2 separate regions of the Homo sapiens genome follow, and region 1 is linked to region 2. Evidence: fine-mapped expression QTL. Tissue or cell type: testis. Region 2 holds a variant in brackets; the other region holds the start of a gene. All regions are shown on one strand. Distances are between the middles of the regions.

Region 1 (11,357 bases), 28 kb before region 2:
ACTAAATTGTGAGTGCTACTGAAAATAAGTAAGAAGGTGCTATGAGACCTATATAATAGAGACTTCAAGCCCCTTCAGAAGATATTTGAAAATAAGTGACTTTATTTTAAAAACATCCTCCAGCTTGGGCAACATCTCTTAAATTTTTTTTTTTTTTTTTTTTGAGACAGAGTATCGCTCAGTCGCCAGGCTGGAGTGCAGTGGCACGATCTCGGCTCACTGCAGCTTCCACCTCCCAGGTTCAAGCGATTCTCCTGCCTCAGCCTCCCAAGTAGCTGGGACTATAGGCTTGTGCCATCATGCCCAGCTAATTTTTGTATTTTTAGTAGAGATGGGGTTTCACCATGTTGGCCAAGCGGTCTCAAACTCCTGACCTCGTGGTATGCCCACCTCGGCCTCCCAAAGTGCTGGGGTTATAGGCGTGAGCCACCACGCCCGGCCAAAATATTTTTTTTTAATGAAAAATAGTGGGGCATGGTAGTGGGTGCCTGTAGTCGCAGCCACTCAGGAGGCTGAGGCAGGAGAATCCCTTGACCCCCGGAGTTCCTGGCAGTATGCTATGATTGTGTCTGTGAGCAGCCACTGCACTCCAGCCTGAACAACATAGTGAGACCTCATTTCTGAAAAAAGGAACATATAAACTTCTAATTTCTTTCTTGTTTCTTCAATTTCTCTTTTCACTTTCTACTTAATGTTTTTCTCCTACTTTTCCTTTGTCTTCTTTGTTCCTCTGCTAATTTTCATCTCAGCAGTGACCTAAATCTGGCTTCCTGTAGGTTAAGCCTTCTTTAACGTATTTGCCATCTGTTCTCATTCTGGCTCTGAAGCACAGGATTTTATCCTCTGGTAATTTTTCATTAAGCTAATCTTTGTACAACTTACAAAATGCTTTTTTAGTTGACAAAGGTCACATTTCATTGTCAGTGCTTATTTTACTATTATGGTACAAACTGAGCTCTTGAGCAAATCTAGATGGCATAAAAATACTATGTGAACTATCTGGCCCACATTTTCAAATATAAAATTTATGCAGGGTCTTTTCCTTTTTTTTTTTTTTTTTTTTTTTTTTGAGAGGGAGTCTCCCTCTGTAGCCCAGGCTGGAGTGCAGAGGTGCGATCTGGGCTCACTGCAGCCTCCCTCTCCCAGGTTCAAGTGATTCTCCTGCCTCAGCCTCCAGATGCTGGAAATACAGGAGTGCGCCACCACGCTCAGCTAATTTTTGTTTTGTTTTTTTTTGAGATGGAGTCTCGCTCTGTCGCCCAGGCTGGAGTGCAGTGGCGCGATCTCGGCTCACTGCAAGCTCCACCACCCAGGTTCACGCCATTCTCCTGCCTCAGCCTCCCGAGTAGCTGGGACTACAGGCGCCTGCCACCGCGCCCGGCTAATTTTTTGTATTTTTAGTAGAGACGGGGTTTCACGGTGTTAGCCAGGATGGTCTGGATCTCCTGACCTTGTGATCCACCCGTCTCGGCCTCCCAAAGTGCTGGGATTACAGGCGTGAGCCACCGCGCCTGGCCTGTATTTTCAGTAGAGACGGGTTTTCGCCATGTTGTCCCGGCTGGTCTCGAACTCCTGACCTCAAGTGATCCACCCGCCTCTGCCTCCCAAACTGTTGGGATTACAGGAGTGAGCCACTGCACCTGGCTTGTTTGGTTTTTCTTTTGTTTTTGAGATGGAGTCTTGCCCTGTCGCCAGGCTGGAGTGCAGTGGTGCCATCTCCACACACTGCAACCTCCGACTCCCTGGTGCAAGCTAATCTACTTCCTCAGCCTCCTGAGTAGCTGGGATTATAGGCAGGCACCACCAAGCCCAGCTAATTTTTGTATTTTTAGTAGAGACGGGGTTTCACCATGTTGGCCAGGATGGTCTCAATCTCCTGACATCATGGTCCACTCGCCTCAACCTCCCAAAGTGCTGGGATTACAGGAGTGAGCCACCGCACCTGGCCTTTTTTTTTTTTTTTTTTTTTTTACAGGGTCTCCCTCTGTTGCCCAGGCTGGATTGCAGTGGCGCCATCTCGGCTCACCGCACCCTCCACTGCCCGGATCTAATCCATCTTCCCACCTCACCCTCCCGGATAGCTGGGATTACAAGTATGCGCCACCACGTCTGGCTAATTTCTTTGTATTTTTAGTAAGACAGATTCTGCCATGTTGGTCAGGCTGGTCTTGAATTCCTGGCCTCAAGTCATTGGCTGCCTTAACCTCCCAAAGTGCTAGGATTACAGATGCGAGCCACCATGCCAGGCCTCAGGGGACCTTTGTATTTTAACTTTTTTTTTTTTTTTTTGAGCTGGAGTCTCGCTTCGTTGCCCAGGCTGGGGTGCAGTGGCAAGATCTCGGTTCACTGCAACCTCCACCTCCATGATTCGCCCACCTCGGCCTCCCAAAGTGCAGGGATTATAGGCATGAGCCACAGCACCTGACCTGAAATTTCTGTTTTTTTTTTTTTTTTTTGAGACAGAGTTCTGCTCTGTCGCCCAGGCTGGAGTGCAGTGGCGCAATCTCGGCTCACTGCAACCTCCGCCTCCCCGGTTCAAGTGATTCTCCTGCTTCAGCCTCCAGAGTAGCTGGGATTACAGGCACTCACAACCACGCGCAGCTAATTGTTTTTGTATCTTTAGTAGAGACAGGGTTTCACCATGTTGGCCAGGCTGGTTTCAAACTCCTGACCTTAGGTGATCCACCCACTTCGGCCTCCCAAAGTTCTGGGATTACAGGTGTGAGCCACCAAGCCTGGCCAATGACTGAAATTTCTTTTTGTTTTTTTTTGAGATGGAGTTTTGCTCTTGTTGCCCAGGCTGGAGTGCAATGGTGCAGTCTCGGCTCACTGCAACCTCCGCCTCTGGGGTTCAAGTGATTCTCACTGCCTCAGCCTGGTGAGTAGCTGGGATTACAGGTGCCTGCCACCACGCCCAGCTAATGTTTGTATTTTTAGTAGAGATGGGATTTCACCATGTTGGTCAGGCTGGTCTCGAATTCTTGACCTCAGGTGATCCACCCACCTCAGCCTCCCAAAGTGCTGGGATTGCAGGTGTGAGCCACCGTGCCCGGCCTGAAATTTCTTTAACACAGAACAAAGTCTTACTGTCTACATTGAGAAGTACATTAAGCCTAGTGGAAAAAGTATCACGTAAATTCACTCCAAGATGTAATGAGAATGTTAAGGGAAACTGGTTGCCTGAAAGAGGTAGGAGATGTTTTAAAAATTAACAAAAGTCAGCCGGGAATGGTGGCTCACGCCTGTAATACCAGCACTGTGGGAGGCTAAGGCGGGTGAATCACCTGAGGTCAGGAGGTCAAGACCAGCCAGGCCAACATAGTGAAACCTCATCTCTACTAAAAATACAAAAAATTAGCTGGGTGTGGTGGCGGGTGCCTGTAATCCCAGCCACTAGGGAGACTGAGGCAGGAGAATCTCTTGAACCCGGGAGGCAGAGGTTGCAGTGAGCCAAGATTGTGCCATTGCACACCAGCCTGGGCAACAAGAGCAAAACTCCGTCTCAAAAAAAAAAAAAAAAAAAAATTAACAAAAGTCAGAGGTTCAGAAAAGAGAACACGATTATCAAACACAAACTTGGCTTACTTCAAAATTAATTTTGTCCTGCACTGTCTCTGGCTAGAGCATCTTAAAAAAGGACAGAAAATCCCAGATTTATCAAGAAATAGCTTGGGCAAGAAGCAACCTTAAGTGCATAAAAGCCCAGCTTTTAAATTTTATAAATCTGTCATTTAAACCTGGTAAAATATTATATTGAATTTTCCTCTCTTCACTGGGAAATGTATGTGTCCTGGATACTTTCTCTACTTCCTAATTGTCTCCCTAGCTTTATTTTATTTTATTTTATTTTATTATTTCATGGGATTTAGAGGAAGTCACATGGGGCCCATTAACTATGTGTTCATCCTCCTGGAAATCCCCGAACCTCATGCCAATAACCAGAATGGAGCTTTCTCAATGCACCCATTCAGTGCATTAAAGAGAGGATTTAGGCCAGTCGTGGTGGCTCAGGCCTGTAATCCCAGCACTTTGGGAGGCCAAGGTAGGTGGATCACCTGAGGTCGGGAGTTCGAGACCAGCCTGACCAACATGGAGAAACCTTGTCTCTAGTAAAAATACAAAATTAGCTGGGCGTGGTGGCGCATGCCTGTAATCCCAGCTACTCAGGAGGCTGAGGCAGGAGAATTGCTTGAACCCGGGAGGCAGAGGTTGCAGTGAGCCGAGATCGCACCATTGCACTCCTGCCTAGGTAACAAGAGCGAAACTGCATCTCAAAATAAATAAATAAATAAAGAGGATTTTATGTAACAATTGAGACCGTATTCCACTTAATATATAATATGAATGCAGTGACCAGCCTTGCAGAATTTTTAAGAACATTTAATTTTCTTATATCAAATCCTATTGCTTCATAATTACATCCCAAAGTTTGGTTTCAAAACGGTGGTCACGGTGAAATGGAAGATATACATTCTCTTACTCGAAAGCACTGGCACATGTGGACTGAATAGGCATGTTGATCCCACCAACGGTGCAGTGTTTGTTCTCTTCAAAGGGATCTCAGGGCTTCAGAACAACTCCCACTGTTGTTGCCCTTCAGATAAAGATTTAAAGAATATCGGCCGGGCGCGGTGGCTCAAGCCTGTAATCCCAGCACTTTGGGAGGCCAAGGCGGGCAGATCACCTGAGGTCAGGAGTTCGAGACCAGCCTCAACATTGAGAAACTCCATCTCTACTAAAAATACAAAGTGAGCTGGCTGTGGTGGTGCATGCCTGTAATCCCAGCTACTCGGGAGGCTGAGGCAGGAGAATTGCTTGAACCTGGGAGGCAGAGGTTGCGGTGAGCCGAGATCGCGCCATTGCACTCCAGCCTGGGCAACAAGAGTGAAACTCTGTCTCAAAATAAATAAATAAATAAATAAAAGATTTAAAGATCATCCTCTGAATACCAACAAATTTCTTTTAATCTCAAATCCCGCAAATGTGTTCTCAGCTTTAGTTTTAGTTGAGAAGTGGATCTGTTAAGGACCCTTTAAGCTGCTCTTTCTCCAAGTCAAACATGCATAGAGAAAAAGCACAGCCTTCACACACTCTGATCTACAAAGAGTTAACATCTTAAAAGCTAAACAGAACTGGATTAGCTCCTCTTTTAACAAGCCAGAAGGACAAGCTTATTGGAACCTAGAGTACTAAAGGACACCAGAACATTGAGAGAAAAGAATTAGCGACAGCTATCTGGAGCAAGCAAGAACTGTAAGTTTCTATCTGATGCATATTTATAGTTTCCTATGTCTTCCCTAGGGGTGTTTTTGAGAAGAATGAAATAAGTTTATTCTTTTTTTTTTTTTTTTTTTTGAGACAGAGTCTTACTCTGTCGCCCAGGCTGGAGTGCACCGGCACTATCTCTGCTCACTGCAACCTCTGCCTCCCAGGTTCAAGCGATTCTCCTGCCTCAGCCTCCCAAGTAGCTGGGGACTACAGGCATGCGCCACCATTGCCCGGCTAATTTTTGTGTTTTTAGTAGAGACGGGGTTTCACCATGTTTGCCAGGCTGGTCTTGAACTCCTGACCTCAGGTGATTCACCCGCCTCGGCCTCCCAAAGTGCTGGGATTACTGGCATGAGCCACCGCGCCTGGCCTGGTTTATTCATTTTCTATTGTACCACCAGTCTCCCAGGCATCCAGCACAACATTACCAAGTCATCTTTAATCCTGTCACCCTCTTAACTCTATCTCACGTCCAACCAGTTGTCACATCTTTTGATTCTCCTTCCTCAGTGTCTTCATGATCCATCCTATTCTTCCATCCCCCACCCCCCTCCTTCCCTAGTTCAAGACTTCTTGCCTGAACTATAGCAATATCCTCTTAACACTGTTCTCTCCCCAATTTCCAAATCACTAATAGTAGATGAATCTTCCTAATGCTCTTCCATAGCTCTAATTATATTGCTCTTTTGCTCAGAAATGTATCCACTATCTGCAGAATGAATAAAACTCCTTTTCAAATTAATTAATTTTTAATTGACAATTTGAAATTGTATATATTTATTGTGTAAAATTTGTTGCTTTGAAATATATATATAGAGAGAGTGGAAAATGGCTACCTTGGGCTTTTCTTTTTTTTTTTTTTGAGACAGAATCTCTCTCTCTCGTGAGGCTGGAGTGCAGTGGCTCAATCTCGGCTCACTGCAACCTCTGCCTCCTGGGTTCAAACAATTCTCCTGCCTCAACCTCCCGAGTAGCTGGGACTACAGGTGCGCACCACCATGCCCAGCTAATTTTTGCATTTTTAGTAGAGACAGGGTTTTACCATGTTGGCCACGGCCAGGATGGTCTTGATCTCTTGATCTTGTGATCTGCCCGCCTTGGCCTCCCAAAGTGCTGGGATTACGGGCGTGAGCCACCACACCTGCCCAATCTTGGGCTAATTAAAATATGTATTACCTCATATGCTCATCAATTTTTTGTGTTTGATGAGAACACTTAAAAATCTACTCTTGGCCCAGGCGTGTTGGCTCACACCTGTAATCTCAGCATTTTGGGAGGCTGAGGCGGGTGGATCACTTGAGATCAGGAGTTCAAGACCAGTCTGGCCAACATGGCAAAACCCTGTCTCTACTAAGAATAGAAAAATTAGCTGGGCGTGGCGGCTTGCGCCTGTAATTGCAGCTGCCTGGGGGGCTGAGACATGAGAATTGCTTGAACCCTGGAGGCAGAGGTTGCAGTGAGGCGAGAGCATACCGCTGTACTCCAGCCTGGGCAACAGAGTGAGACCTTGTCTCAAAAAAAAAAAAAATAAATAATAATAATAATAATAATAATAATAATAATCAGAGTAAGGGGAACTGGCTACAAAATTTTAAATGCTTGCCCAGTGATACAGAGTGTAAAAAAGAAAAAAAAGAAGTCTGGGCAGGGTGGCTCATGCCTGTAATCCCAGCACGTTGGGAGACCGAGGCTGGCGGATCCCAAGGTCCGGAGTTCGAGACCAGCCTGGCCAAAATTGTGAAATCTTGTCTCTACTAAAAAATACAAAAAATTAGCTGGGCATGGTGGCAGGTGCCTGTAATCCCAGCTACTCTGGAGGCTGAGACAGGAGAATCGCTTGAACCCGGGAAGCGGAGGTTGCAGTAAACTGAGATTGCAACATTGCACTCCAGCCCAGGCAACAATGTGATACTCTGTCTCGAAAAAAGAGGAAAAGAAAATTTTAATTGCTGATGTCATCAAGCTGGCTTTATACGTCTATCCATCTATCACTAGTAAAGGGTTCTTCACCCTCACTAACCTATACTTGTCCAAGTGCACTGCAATTCTGAATATCACTGCAAGGAAATTTTTTTTTTTTTAAGACGGAGTCTTGCTCTGTCACCCGGCTGGAGTGCAGTGGCGTGATCTCACCTCACTGCAATCTCTGCCTCCCAGGTTCAAGCAATTCCCCTGCCTCAGCCTCCTGAGTACCTGGGACTACAGGCACGCACCACCATGCCTGGCTAATTTTTTTGTATTTTAGTAGAGACGGGGTTTCACTATGTTGACCAGGATGGTCTCGATCTCCTGACCTCATGATCAGCCCGCCTCAGCCTCCCATAGTGCTGGGATTACAGGCGTGAGCCACCACGCCGGGTGGAAGTTTCTTCAGTCTTTCATCCTGTTGAGTTCAAAACAATTGATAAACCCTTTTAGAATCTACATTCCATTTTTTTTTTTTTTTTTTTTTTGAGACAGAGTCTCGCTCTGTCTCCCAGGCTGGAGTGCAGTGGCGTGATCTCGGCTCACAGCAAGCTCCGCCTCCCAGGTTCACGCCATTCTCCTGCCTCAGCCTCCCCAGTAGCTGGGACTACAGGCGCGTGCCACCACACCCGGCTAATTTTTTGTATTTTGTAGTAGAGATGGAGTTTCACCACGTTAGCCAGGATAGTCTTGATCTCCTGACCTTGTGATCCACCCATCTCGGCCTCCCAAAGTGCTGGGATTACAGGCGTGAGCCACTGTGCCCGGCCTACATTCCACTTTTTCATTCCTGAGAAATTAAATCTGGCCACTGGATGTTCAACACGCCTTCACTGACAGTCTCAACTGGCTTTTCTTCTCTAGCATTCCAATAAACTCCATTTCATTCTTAGAGCTTCTGTGACTTCAGTTTTAATGATACTTTTCAATTGCTCCATAGTGCCATATAGCATTGGTGGTGCGTCAATGTGCTCTGGGCCCAGATATTAAGAACAACAGCATCCCTTCTACTACAGCTCCATTTTTGCAAATGGCTTCAGGTCCAGAGGACCAAGCTTATGATGCAGTCACCTTTCCTTTTCCTTCACATTACTTTTCTACAGTAGGAAACTAGGAAGGTGGGTGACTAAGTAAACCTGTAGATGCTACTCTATTTATTTTATTTATTATTATTATTTTTTGAGAAGCTGTCTCACACTGTCGCCCAGGCTGGAGTGCAATGGTGTAATCTTGGCTCACTGCAATCTCCGCCTCCTGTGCTCAAGCGATTCTCCTGCTTCAGCCTCCAGAGCAGCTGGGACTACAGGCATGAGCCACTACACCCAGCTAATTTTTGTATTTTTAGTAGAAATGGGGTTTCGCCATGTTAGCCAGGCTGGTCTCAAACTCCTGACCTTGTGATCTGCCCGCCTCGGCCTCCCAAAGTGCTGGGATTACAGGCATGAGCCACTGTGCCCAGCCCCTATATATGGTACTTCAAATGGAGATTTACTTGTAAACTAAATGCAGATTTACTTTTTTTTTTTTTTTAGACAGAGTCTCACTCTGCTTTGCCCAGGCTGGAGTGGAGTGCAGTGGCACGATCTTGGCTCACTGCAATCTCCACCTGCCGGGTTGAAGCGATTCTCCTGCCTCAGCCTCCCGAGTAGCCGGATTACAGGCGCCTGTCACCATGCCCAGCTAACTTTTGTCATGTGGCTGGGCTAGTCTCGAACTCCTGGCCGCAGGTGATCCATCCGCCTCAGCCTCCCAAAGTGTTGGGATTATAAACGTGAGCCACCGTGCCTGGCCTGAGATTTACTTGTAATCCTAGGTCTAACATGCGAAAGTACTTAAACTTTGGGGTGATTATTCAGCTTTCTTAAAATAGGCATGCTATGAAATCTGTATAGATCTATTTAAGACTATGACATTGGAAAGATGCTCTCCATTTATTGTGATTTTTAAAAATGAAATGTTACAGAACAGAGTATGAATTATCCAATTCAAGTTAAATTGCCCGGAAAGCAGATCAATACAATGTTTACATTTTCTCTAGGTGATAGAATTTCTCCATTATACTTTTTGCTTTCTTCTTTATATTTCTCTGTTTGTTCAAAATAAGCTTCTGAACACCCTTCTCCAGTTGACAAGTCAAGCTAGCTTCAACAAAAAGGGAGAATTTGTTGTATAGGGCACAAGACTCTACTATAGAACCTAAAGGTAGGAACAGAGCCAGACAGTGGCATTTATGGAAATAGGGAAAGACTGGGAAACAATCAGACTGGTAAGAGAAATTACAATTCCTCTTTGGGAAAGGTGAGTTTCAGTTGTCTAGTATGTTTACTAGGGGAAACATTTGAAAGGGGAAATGTTTAAAAAGAATTTGTACAAATCTGAAAGTCAAGGCTGGAGAACTAAATTTTTTTTTTTTTTTTTTTTGAAGATGGAATCTCTCTCTTGTCACCCAGGCTGGAGTACAGTGGCACGATCTCTGCTCACTGCATCCTCCGCCTCCCGGGTTCAAACTATTCTCCTGCTTTAGACTCCTGAGTAACTGGGATCACTCTGTCGTGGCACATGTCACCGCGCCCAGCAAATTTTTGTATGTTTAGTAGAGACAGGGTTTCACCATGTTGGCCAAGCTGGTCTTGAACTCCTGACCTCAGATGATTTGCCCGCCTCAGCCTCCCAAAGTACTGCGAATACAGGCGTGAACCACTGCTCCCAGCTGAGACATAAATTTTGGAGACAAAACTGGAAAAGACTGGAATCAAGAACAGAATGCTTTAAGAACTTTTTGACTCACTTCAGTCCCTCAGTGTCATTCTCTCTCTTGTTCGTTCATTCTACTTTTCATACATTCGGTGTTTATTTGTTGAGTACCTGCTATGTGCCAATAACTGTTCGGGTACTGCATCTATAGAGGTAAACAAGATAAACCATTTTTCTGCCTTCAAAGTCACTATGTTTTAGTGAGAGGGGACAGACAATAAACTAGTATAAATAAATGAAGGTAGTTTCTGTGTATAGTAAATGTCACAAGGGAAATAAACAGGGTGAGGTGACAGAGTATAAGACTGGTAAGAGAAGGGGAAGTGCTCAGTTCAGCTACCAAAGTCAGAGAAAGGCCTCCTGGCAAATGAAAAGATGCTTGAGAGACCAAAGGATCAGATGGAGTCAGCCAAATAAAGAGCAAGAAGGAGGCCAGGTGCAGTGGCTCAAGCCTGTAATCCCAGCACTTTGGGAGGCCAAGGCAGGCAGATCACAAGATCAGGAGATCAAGACCATCTTGGCTAACATGGTGAGACCCCGTCTCTACTAAAAACACAAAAAATTAGCCGGGCATGGTGGCACGTGCCTGTAGTCCGAGCTACTCAGGAGGCTGAGGCAGGAGAATCACTTGAACTCGGGAGGTGGAGGTTACAGTGAGCTGAGATCGCGCCACTGCACTCCAGCCTGGGTGACAGAGTGAGACTCCATCTCCAAAAAAAAAAAAAAGAGCAAGAAAGAGCTTGATGGTTGGGAGAGCAAAGAGAGGGCAAGTGGTGAGGAGTGTTGTGAGCTAGAGGAAGGAAGGTACAAGGTGTGATTGGAGGAATAAGAAGCGGATCAGCTGAGGTTGGGCTTTACAGGCCCTGGAAAAAAAGTGTAAATTTTACTTTAAGTGTAATGAAAAGCCATTTGGAGACTTTTGGCAAAGAAATGTTATGAACTGGGTTGTTTTATACAGGTCACTCTGGGTGTTTCAGGCAGAAATAAGGGAGGATGGGAGAGGAAAATGGGGAGAGCATTAAAAAATGTGGTAGTTGAGGAAAGAGACACAGATCACTTGAATTTTAGTGGCGGAGACAGGCTAATATATGTTGTTTTTGTCTGTGTTTGTTTTTTAGACAGTTTTGCTCTTGTTGCCCAGGCTGGAGTGCAATGGCACAATTTCAGCTCACTGCAACCTCCGCCTTCCAGGTTCAAGCAATTCTCCTGCCTCAGCCTCCTGAGTAGCTGCGATTAAAGGCACCCGCCACCACGCCCGGCTAATTTTTTGTATTTTTAGTGGAGACAGGGTTTCACCATGTTGGCCAGGCTGGTCTTGAACTCCTGACCTCGGGCGATCCGCCCGCCTCAACCTCCCAAAGTGCCGGGGT
Region 2 (8,000 bases):
GACCAGCCTGGCCAACGTGGTGAAACCCCGTCTGTACTAAAAATACAAAAAAACTAGCCAGGTATGGTGGCCGGTGCCTGTAATCCCAGCTACTCAGGAGGCTGAGGCAGGAAAATCCCTTGAACCTGGGAGGCGGAGGTTGCAGTGAGCCGAGATTGCACCATTGCACTCCAGCCTGGGCAACAAGAGCAAAACTCTGTCAAAAAAAAAAAAAAGAGGAAAGAAGGAAGGAGGGAGGGAGGGAAGGAAGGAAGGAAGGGAGGGAGGAAGGAGAGAGAGAAAGAAAGAAAGAAAGAAAGAAAGAAAGAAAGAAAGAAAGAAAGAAAGAAAGAAATTAACCTAAAGGAGATAAGTTTATGTATAAAAGGATATTTGCTGCCTCACTATATAGAAGGAAAACGACTTCATCCTCATCACCAGATAGGGATTCTTAGCCCTCTCTGTGCATAAATTCCTGGAAAACTTTTTTAAAAATGTATTTTTCAGACAAGTTTTAGTTTTATAGCAAAATTAAGCAGGAAATAGAGTTCCTGTATACCCATTGCCTCCATACACACACAGCCTCCCCAACTATCAGCACCCCGTACCAGAGTGGTGCATTTGTTACAATCAGTGAAACTACATTGACACATCATTATCACCTGACCATCATTTAATAGTTTACATTAGGGTTCATTCTTGGTGTTGTACATTCTTTTTTTTTTTTTGAGATGGAGTCTCGCTCAGTTGCCCAGGCTGGAGGGCAGTGGCGTGATCTCGGCTCACTGCAAGCTCTGCCTCCTGGGTTCATGCCGTTCTCCTGCCTCAGCCTCCTGAGTAGCTGGGACTACAGGCGCCCGCCACCATGCCCGGCTAATTTTTTTGTATTTTTAGTAGAGACGGGGTTTCACCATGTTAGCCAGGATGGTCTCGATCTCCTGACCTCGTAATCCGCCTGTCTCAGCTTCCCAAAGTGCTGGGATTACAGGCGTAAGCCACTGCGCCTGGCCGGTGTTGTACATTCTATGGGTTTTGACAAATGTGTAAGGACATGTATCCATCATTATAGCATCATACAGAATAGCTTTACTCCCCCAAAAGTCCTCTGTGTTCCACCTAGTCATGTCTTTTACCTCCAGTCCTGGCAACCACTGATCTTTTTACTGTCTCCAGTTTTGCCTCTTCTAGAATGTCATATAGTTGGGATTACACAGTATGTGGCCTTTTCAAATTGGCTTCTTTCACTTAGTAATATGCATTTAAGCTTGCTCCATGTCTTTTAAGGTTTGAAAGCTCATTTTTTCAAAACACCAAATAACATTCGATTGTCTACATGTACCAGTTTATTTATCCATTCAGCTACCGAAAGATGTCTTAGTTGCTTCCAAGTTTTGGCAATTATGAATAAAGCTGCTATTAACATTATGTGTCGTTTTTTGTATGGATATAAGTTTTCAACCTGGAGATATTTTAAAACCACAGATCCAGGCCGGGTGCGGTGGCTTATGCCTGTAATCCCAGTACTTTGGGAGGCCAAGGTGGGTGGATCATTTGTGGTCAGGAGATCGAAAACAGCCTGGCCAACATGGTGAATCCCCATCTTTACTGAAAATACCAAAATTAGCCGGGTGTGATGGCTCATGCCTGTAATTCCAGCTACTTGGGAGGCTGAGGCAGGCGAATAGCTTGAACCCGAGAGGCAGGGGTTGCACTGGGCCAAGATTATGCTACTGCACTCCAGCCTGGGCAACAGAGCAAGACTCTGTCTCAAAAACAAAACAAAACAAAACAAAAAAAGACCATAACAGATCCCTGGGCCCCATCTCTGAGATTCCCTTTCAATTATTTGGGGGGTAGAATTCAGGCAGTGTAATTTTAAGATCTCTCCAGGTTATTCTAATCAGCAGCTAGACAGGGAATCAATGAGATAGAGTGGAGTGAACCCAAATCCTCCCCAGTATCTCTTTCAATCTTTCAAACAATAAAGAAAACGTGAGCTCCTAGGTTCAGGAATAATAGTCTTTTTTTTTTTTTTTTTTTTTTTTTTTTTTTTTTTTTGAGACAGAGTCTCACTTTGTTGCCCAGGCTGAAGTGTAGTGGCACCTTGTCAGCTCACTGCAATCTCCATCTTCCGGGTTCAAGCAAATTCTCCTGCCTCAGCCTCCTGAGTAGCTGGGATTACAGGCACCCACCACCACACCTGGCTAATTTTTATATTTTTAGTAGAGAGGGGGTTTCACCATGTTGGCCAGGCTGGTCTCGAACTCCTGACCTCAGGTGATTCGCCTTCCTCGACCTCCCAAAGTGCTGGGATTACAGGCGTGAGCCCCTGCGCCCAGCCTAATCTTCTTTCTATTATTTTATTTTATTTTATTTTTATTTTCCGAGACAGAGACTCACTCTGTCACCCAAGCTGGAGTGCAGTGGCGAGATCTCAGCTCACTGTAATCTCCACCTCCCAGGTTCAAGTGATTCTCCTGCCTCAGCCTCCCGAGTAGCTGGGACTACAGGTGTGCGCCACCATGCCCAGCTAATTTTTGTATTTTTAGTAGAGACGGGGTTTCACCACGTTGGCCAGGATGGTCTTAATCTCTTGACCTCGTGATCCACCCGCCTCAGCCTTCCAAAGTGCTGGGATTATAAGCGTGAGCCACCGTGCCGGGTGTATTTTACTATTATTATTATTATTATCATTATTTTTTGAGACAGTCTCACTCTGTTGTCGCCAGGCTGGAGTGCAGTGGTGCAATCTCGGCTCACTGCAACCTCCCCCTCCCAGGTTCAAGCAATTCTCCTGCTTCAGCCTCCTGAGTAGCTGGGACTACAGGTGCGCACCACCACACCCAGCTAATTTTTGTATTTTTAGTAGAGATGGGGTCTCACTATGTTGGCCAGGATGGTCTCAATCTCTTGACCTCGTGATCTGCCCGCCTCAACTTCCCAAAGTGTTGGGATTACAGGCCTGAGCCACCGCACTCGGCCACTATTGTTATTTTTTGAGACAGAATCTCACTCTGTTGCCTAAGCTGATTTCAGCTCACTGCAACCTCCGCCTCCCGCAGTTCAAGCGATTCTCTTGCCCAGTGTCCATAGCTGGGATGACAGGCTTATGCCACCACACCCATCTGACTTTTGTGTTTTTAGTAAAGACAAGGTTTTGCCATGTTGCCCAGGCTGGTCTCCAACTCCTGACCTCAGGCCATCTGCCCGCCTCAGCCTCCCAAAGTGCTGGGATTATAGGCGTGAGCCACGGTGCCTGGTTCATAATCTTCTTTTTAAGTTTTCTAGCACGTTCAAACCTCACTGGTTTCTCTAAGGAAACGGCTGAGACCTAGCTTGACATTGCAAGGTTTGTGGGAAATTATGAACACCATCATTTAAAAAAGTAGTTATTATCTTTTCTCATAACATAAGCTTAAGGTTAGTGATCTCTATCAAATCTTGGCTGGCGTGATGAGAAATGGGAGAAAGGAGATTATTTACTAGACTGTACATACACCACATACTTGTGTTCTAGTGTGGGTAAGACGGGAAGGCAAGAGACAAGAGGGAGGTATTCTTACTAGGGCATAGTCAAGGAGAAAATGTCTTTAATTCTATCCATGTTCAGACAGAATAATTTAGCGCCTTTCTCTGCAGAGCTTCCATTAAAGAGAAGGTAGAGCTGATTCGACTTAAGAAGCTCTTACATGAAAGAAATGCTTCATTGGTTATGACAAAAGCACAATTAACAGAAGTTCAAGAGGTGAGTTGCCATCATCAGCTGTGCTTTCTTGGTGGGGGGAAACCCCAATTAAGAGATTCATATTATTTTCTCCATTTTAAATATGAGAAGCCACAATTCAGAAAGACAATTTATAAGTGATATCACACAATTTATAAGTGATATTCAAATCCAAGCCTCACAACTCGGAGTCTATGCTTTTCCCAGTATTTCCCATTAGTTCTCTATTAAGAGGAAGGCTCAAGCTCTGCCTGCTAAGGTGAAATAAAGTGGAGTTAACTTGTGTAAGGGTTACGGTCCCCTACGAAGACCACAACCAGAATGTGATTAAATTAGGAAGCCAAAAGCAGTCACAGGGAAGGGAAGGAAACTAGCCTTTTAATTAGCACTTTCTGTGAGCTGTACTCTGTCCCAGATATTTACAGTCATGATCTTTTTTAAGCCTGACAACAGCCCTCAAGGTAAGTATATTTAGCATTAGCACACATTAGAAACTAACATCTGATTGGTGGAAATAGAGTATCAAGGGTCAAAGTAAGGTCAGC[A/C]CCATCCTTTTATTGAACAAATATTTATCCAGTACCAGGAATTGCAAAGCACTGGGATACAAAGATTCCAAGGGTAAGTAAGAAAAAACTGCCTTCAAGGAGTTTATAGGAGTGAGAAAACAAGTAAACAAATTCAACTATCCTATGCAGGGTATGGGCAGGACACAAAAGAGAGAGTAGTCAGACCCACCAGTGGGTGAGGTGCTGATATGGCTGATAAGTGGAGGAACACCAGGGCTCTTGTCTCACGCGAATTAGATAAAACGACACGGACACAGGTGGAGCGGCTTTAAGGAGCGGAGAGTTTAATAGGCAAGAAACAAGGGAGAAGAAAGACGGAAGAAGCTCCCCTGTACTGAGACAGAGGGAGAAGGACTCCAAAGCAGAGAGGGGAGACCTCATGTGCCGGGAAAAGTGGCTGCTTATATGAGTAGGCAGGAGGAGGTAGTGTCTGATTTGCATAGGGCTCAGGGGATTGGTTTGACCAGGCATGTCACTCATGTAGCCTGTGGAAAAAACTGGCCCTCCTACCCTAGTCTTTTAATATGCAAATGAAGGGCGCCATGATGTTCTACACACGTGGGGATATGTGGGGGTGGCCATGTTGCCAGGTACAGGTCGGGGAAAGGACAGGAAGACAAGGGCGGGAATCGCCATGTTTGGGTGGACCCAGTTTCTAAAGACCTGTATTTGCATATCAAAGGTTGCCTTCCCGGCTGTAAGAGCCAGGGCTTTCCTGCTAGACAAAAAACGTTTCTGGAGCTGCTTTAAAGGACGAGAAAACTTTCCAAGGACCCCTTTTCCTCTCTATCTGCCTAAAATTATTTTTAATAACTCCTTTAACAGTGCCAGATCAGAAAAGGATTAATGACTGGGTGCGGTGGCTGGAGCCTGTAATCCCAGCACTTTGGGAGGTCAAGGAGGGAGGATCACTTGAGCTCAGGAATTCGAGACCAGCCCAGACAACATGGCGAAACCCCATCTCTATCAAAAATAGAAAAATTAGACAGGCATCGTGATGTGTGCCTGTAGTCCTAGCTACTATGGAGGCTGAGGCAGGAGGATTGCTTGAGTGCTTGAGCCCAGGAGGCAGAGGTTGCAGTGAGCCGAGATCCCGATACGGCACCTCAGCGTGAGACTTTGTCTCAAAAAAAGAAAAAAGAAAAGGATTAATAAAGGAATAGATTTGTGAGTTAAATACTGAAATACTAAAAGATTAGCTTGTGTTAATAAGTGTGTAAGAGAAGAGGGGGCTTTCCATGAGAGCAGAGGTGAGAAACATCAGGTCTGGTCATGAAGGACACACTAAGAATTTTTTTTCTCGTTGTCATTAAAGACAGAACATGCTAGGAATTTAGACTTTATCCTACAAACAGCAGAGAGCTATGTGAAAGGGTTTTAAGCAAGTTGATATGATCAATTTTTTTCTCTCTCAAGATTATTTGACCTTTTTTAAAAAATAAAAAATAAATTTAAAAAAAAAGTTTGGGAGGCTGAGGTGGGTGGATCGCTTGAGGTCAGGAGTTTGAGACCAGCCTGGCCAACATGGTGAAACCCCGTCTCTACTAAAATACAAAAATTAGGTGTGGTGGGGGGCACCTGTAATCTCAGCTACTTGGGAGGTTGAGGAAGGAGAATTGCTTGAACCTGGGAAGCCGAGGTTGCAGTGAGCCAAGATTGTGCCGCAGCACTCCAGCCTGGGCAACAGAGTGAGACTGTCTCAAAAACAAAAACGAAAACTTACCTCTCATATTTGCTACAAGGATTAAATGAGATAATATGTGTGAAATGATTATAATGATCATGATGTGGCAGGTAATGAAACACATAGTAACACATAGCAACTACTCAACTAATTATAGCTGTTGTTATGATCATTCTTTTTTTTTTACTAAAACTGAAGAGATCTTTCTGAAGTGTGCTAAGTAACAGTACCTAATTTAAGATTAAACATTTTTCTTGGATAATCCACCAAGTACAATGCAAATGTTAATAAATGACCCTTCATTCTTTTTTGAGAAATGGTGTGAATGATTGCAGTCACAGACTACTTGGCAAGCTAGGGCAGGGGAAAAATAGCAACAATTAGTAAACAAGTACACAAATTGATTTGTTTTGTGGGATTTTTATAATGTCTTTAAAAATGTTAAGCATTATATTACAGTGATAAATATATCATGAAATTGATAAATCAATAAAATAATAATAATTTCTTTCTTCCAGGCATACGAAACCTTGCTCCAGAAGGTACTTAATGAGAATTGAGTCTCTGTTTCTTAGTAACCAGAATAATCAAACCCAAAGAAATCTATGTTCATCTCCAAGTAACATAACACCAGAATTTAGCTAACTAAATCAATGTTATTATGTCATATAGTTTCTGTTAAAAATGATACTATTATGATTATCAAAAGATACAGATACTTATTGCACTGTTTTCATAAAAATTGAAATATGAAATTGTAGTTGAGAAATATTTGGCATGGTATTTTTAAGCCTATTGCTGGAGCAAATTATAGCATTTGCTCAAAACTTCCTAAGAGTATTCTTCTAGCATGTGTGAGGTGATGAGATATAACAAAGTTGTTGCAGGTATTCTCAGATGGTCTTAAATATTTGGCCCTATTCACCACTGTGAGTGGGCTGCATGTGAAGCTAGGTGAATGTCTGTGCTTAAGAATCACCACTAAGACAGAGTTCCAAACGAGACCACCCAGCTGTGCCTCACCAGAGGAGTCCGCCAGAAACACACACAGAACTTCTGGAGTTAACATGTCACTTGTCTAGGTACAAACGTAGTCATCATAAAAAAGCAGTCAAATAGCTTAGAAAGTGAAGGCAGCTTTGGAAGGTGGCAACTAATTTAAAGCTAGGGATTAATTTGAACCTTGAGAAAATTAAGGCTCAAGGGCCAGGCGCGGTGGCTCACGCCTGTAATCCCAGCACTTGGGGAGGCGGAGGCGGGTGGATGACCTAAGGTCAGGAGTTCGAGACCAGCCTGGCCAACATGGAGAAACCCTGTCTCTATTAAAAATACAAAAATTAGCTGGGCGTGGTGGCTCATGCCTGTAATCCCAGCTACTCAGGAGGCTGAGGCAGGAGAATTGCTTGAACCCGGTAGGCAGAGGTTGCAGTGAGCCAAGCACTATTGCACTCCAGCCTGGGCAACAGAGCGAGACTGTCTCAATAAATAAATAAATAAATAAATACAAGAAAAGAAAATTAAAGCTCAAATGATGAACTACAATTGCCCAGAATGGAAACCCTACCTACCAGGGAAATTATACTTCCAGAGAAATGCTAGGGTGAAAAACAAGGTTAACGAACAGTACAAAGGTAATAAGCTATTAATCAAAGTCATTCTTTGTGACATCTGTTAGAGAATGCTAGGGTTGCTGGTGTCTGGAGACCACTCGTGCTGAGTGATATGACCATTCCCAGAGGTACTTTCCTTTTGACCCAGAATCAGGGAATCCTGAGTGCAGCCCATGAGGCCCTCCTCAAGCAAGTGAATGAGCTCAGGGCAGAGCTGAAGGAAGAAAGCAAGAAGGCTGTGAGCTTGAAGAGCCAACTGGAAGATGTGTCTATCTTGCAGATGACTCTGAAGGAGGTAAATAATAATAGTTGAAAGATACCATCTACATTTCAACTTCAGGGATGTTAGAATGTGTATCTTAGCAACAATATGAGTATTGCATTTTTTCAAATGACAAAAACGAAGCTCCGAGTAGTTAAATCATTTGCTTAAGATT

Evidence for each region. PIP is the estimated chance that this variant, and not a neighbour inherited with it, causes the effect.
Region 1: it holds the start of RPGRIP1, and the variant in region 2 is fine-mapped to the expression of RPGRIP1 in testis (GTEx, PIP 0.97).

Annotation. Positions count from the first base shown.
Region 1 is chr14:21,274,907-21,286,263 of GRCh38, forward strand. It overlaps RPGRIP1 (RPGR interacting protein 1), which reads left to right and starts at 5,177. Exons shown (of 25, transcript NM_020366.4): 1 at 5,177-5,253.
Region 2 is chr14:21,304,113-21,312,112 of GRCh38, forward strand. It overlaps RPGRIP1 (RPGR interacting protein 1), which reads left to right. Exons shown (of 25, transcript NM_020366.4): 7 at 3,619-3,724; 8 at 6,472-6,495; 9 at 7,712-7,858. Among named protein-coding and RNA genes, the nearest start is that of RPGRIP1, 28 kb to the left of the region's middle. RefSeq lists enhancers at 4,772-5,299, 5,122-5,281. The variant A/C (reference allele first, on the strand shown) is at 4,249.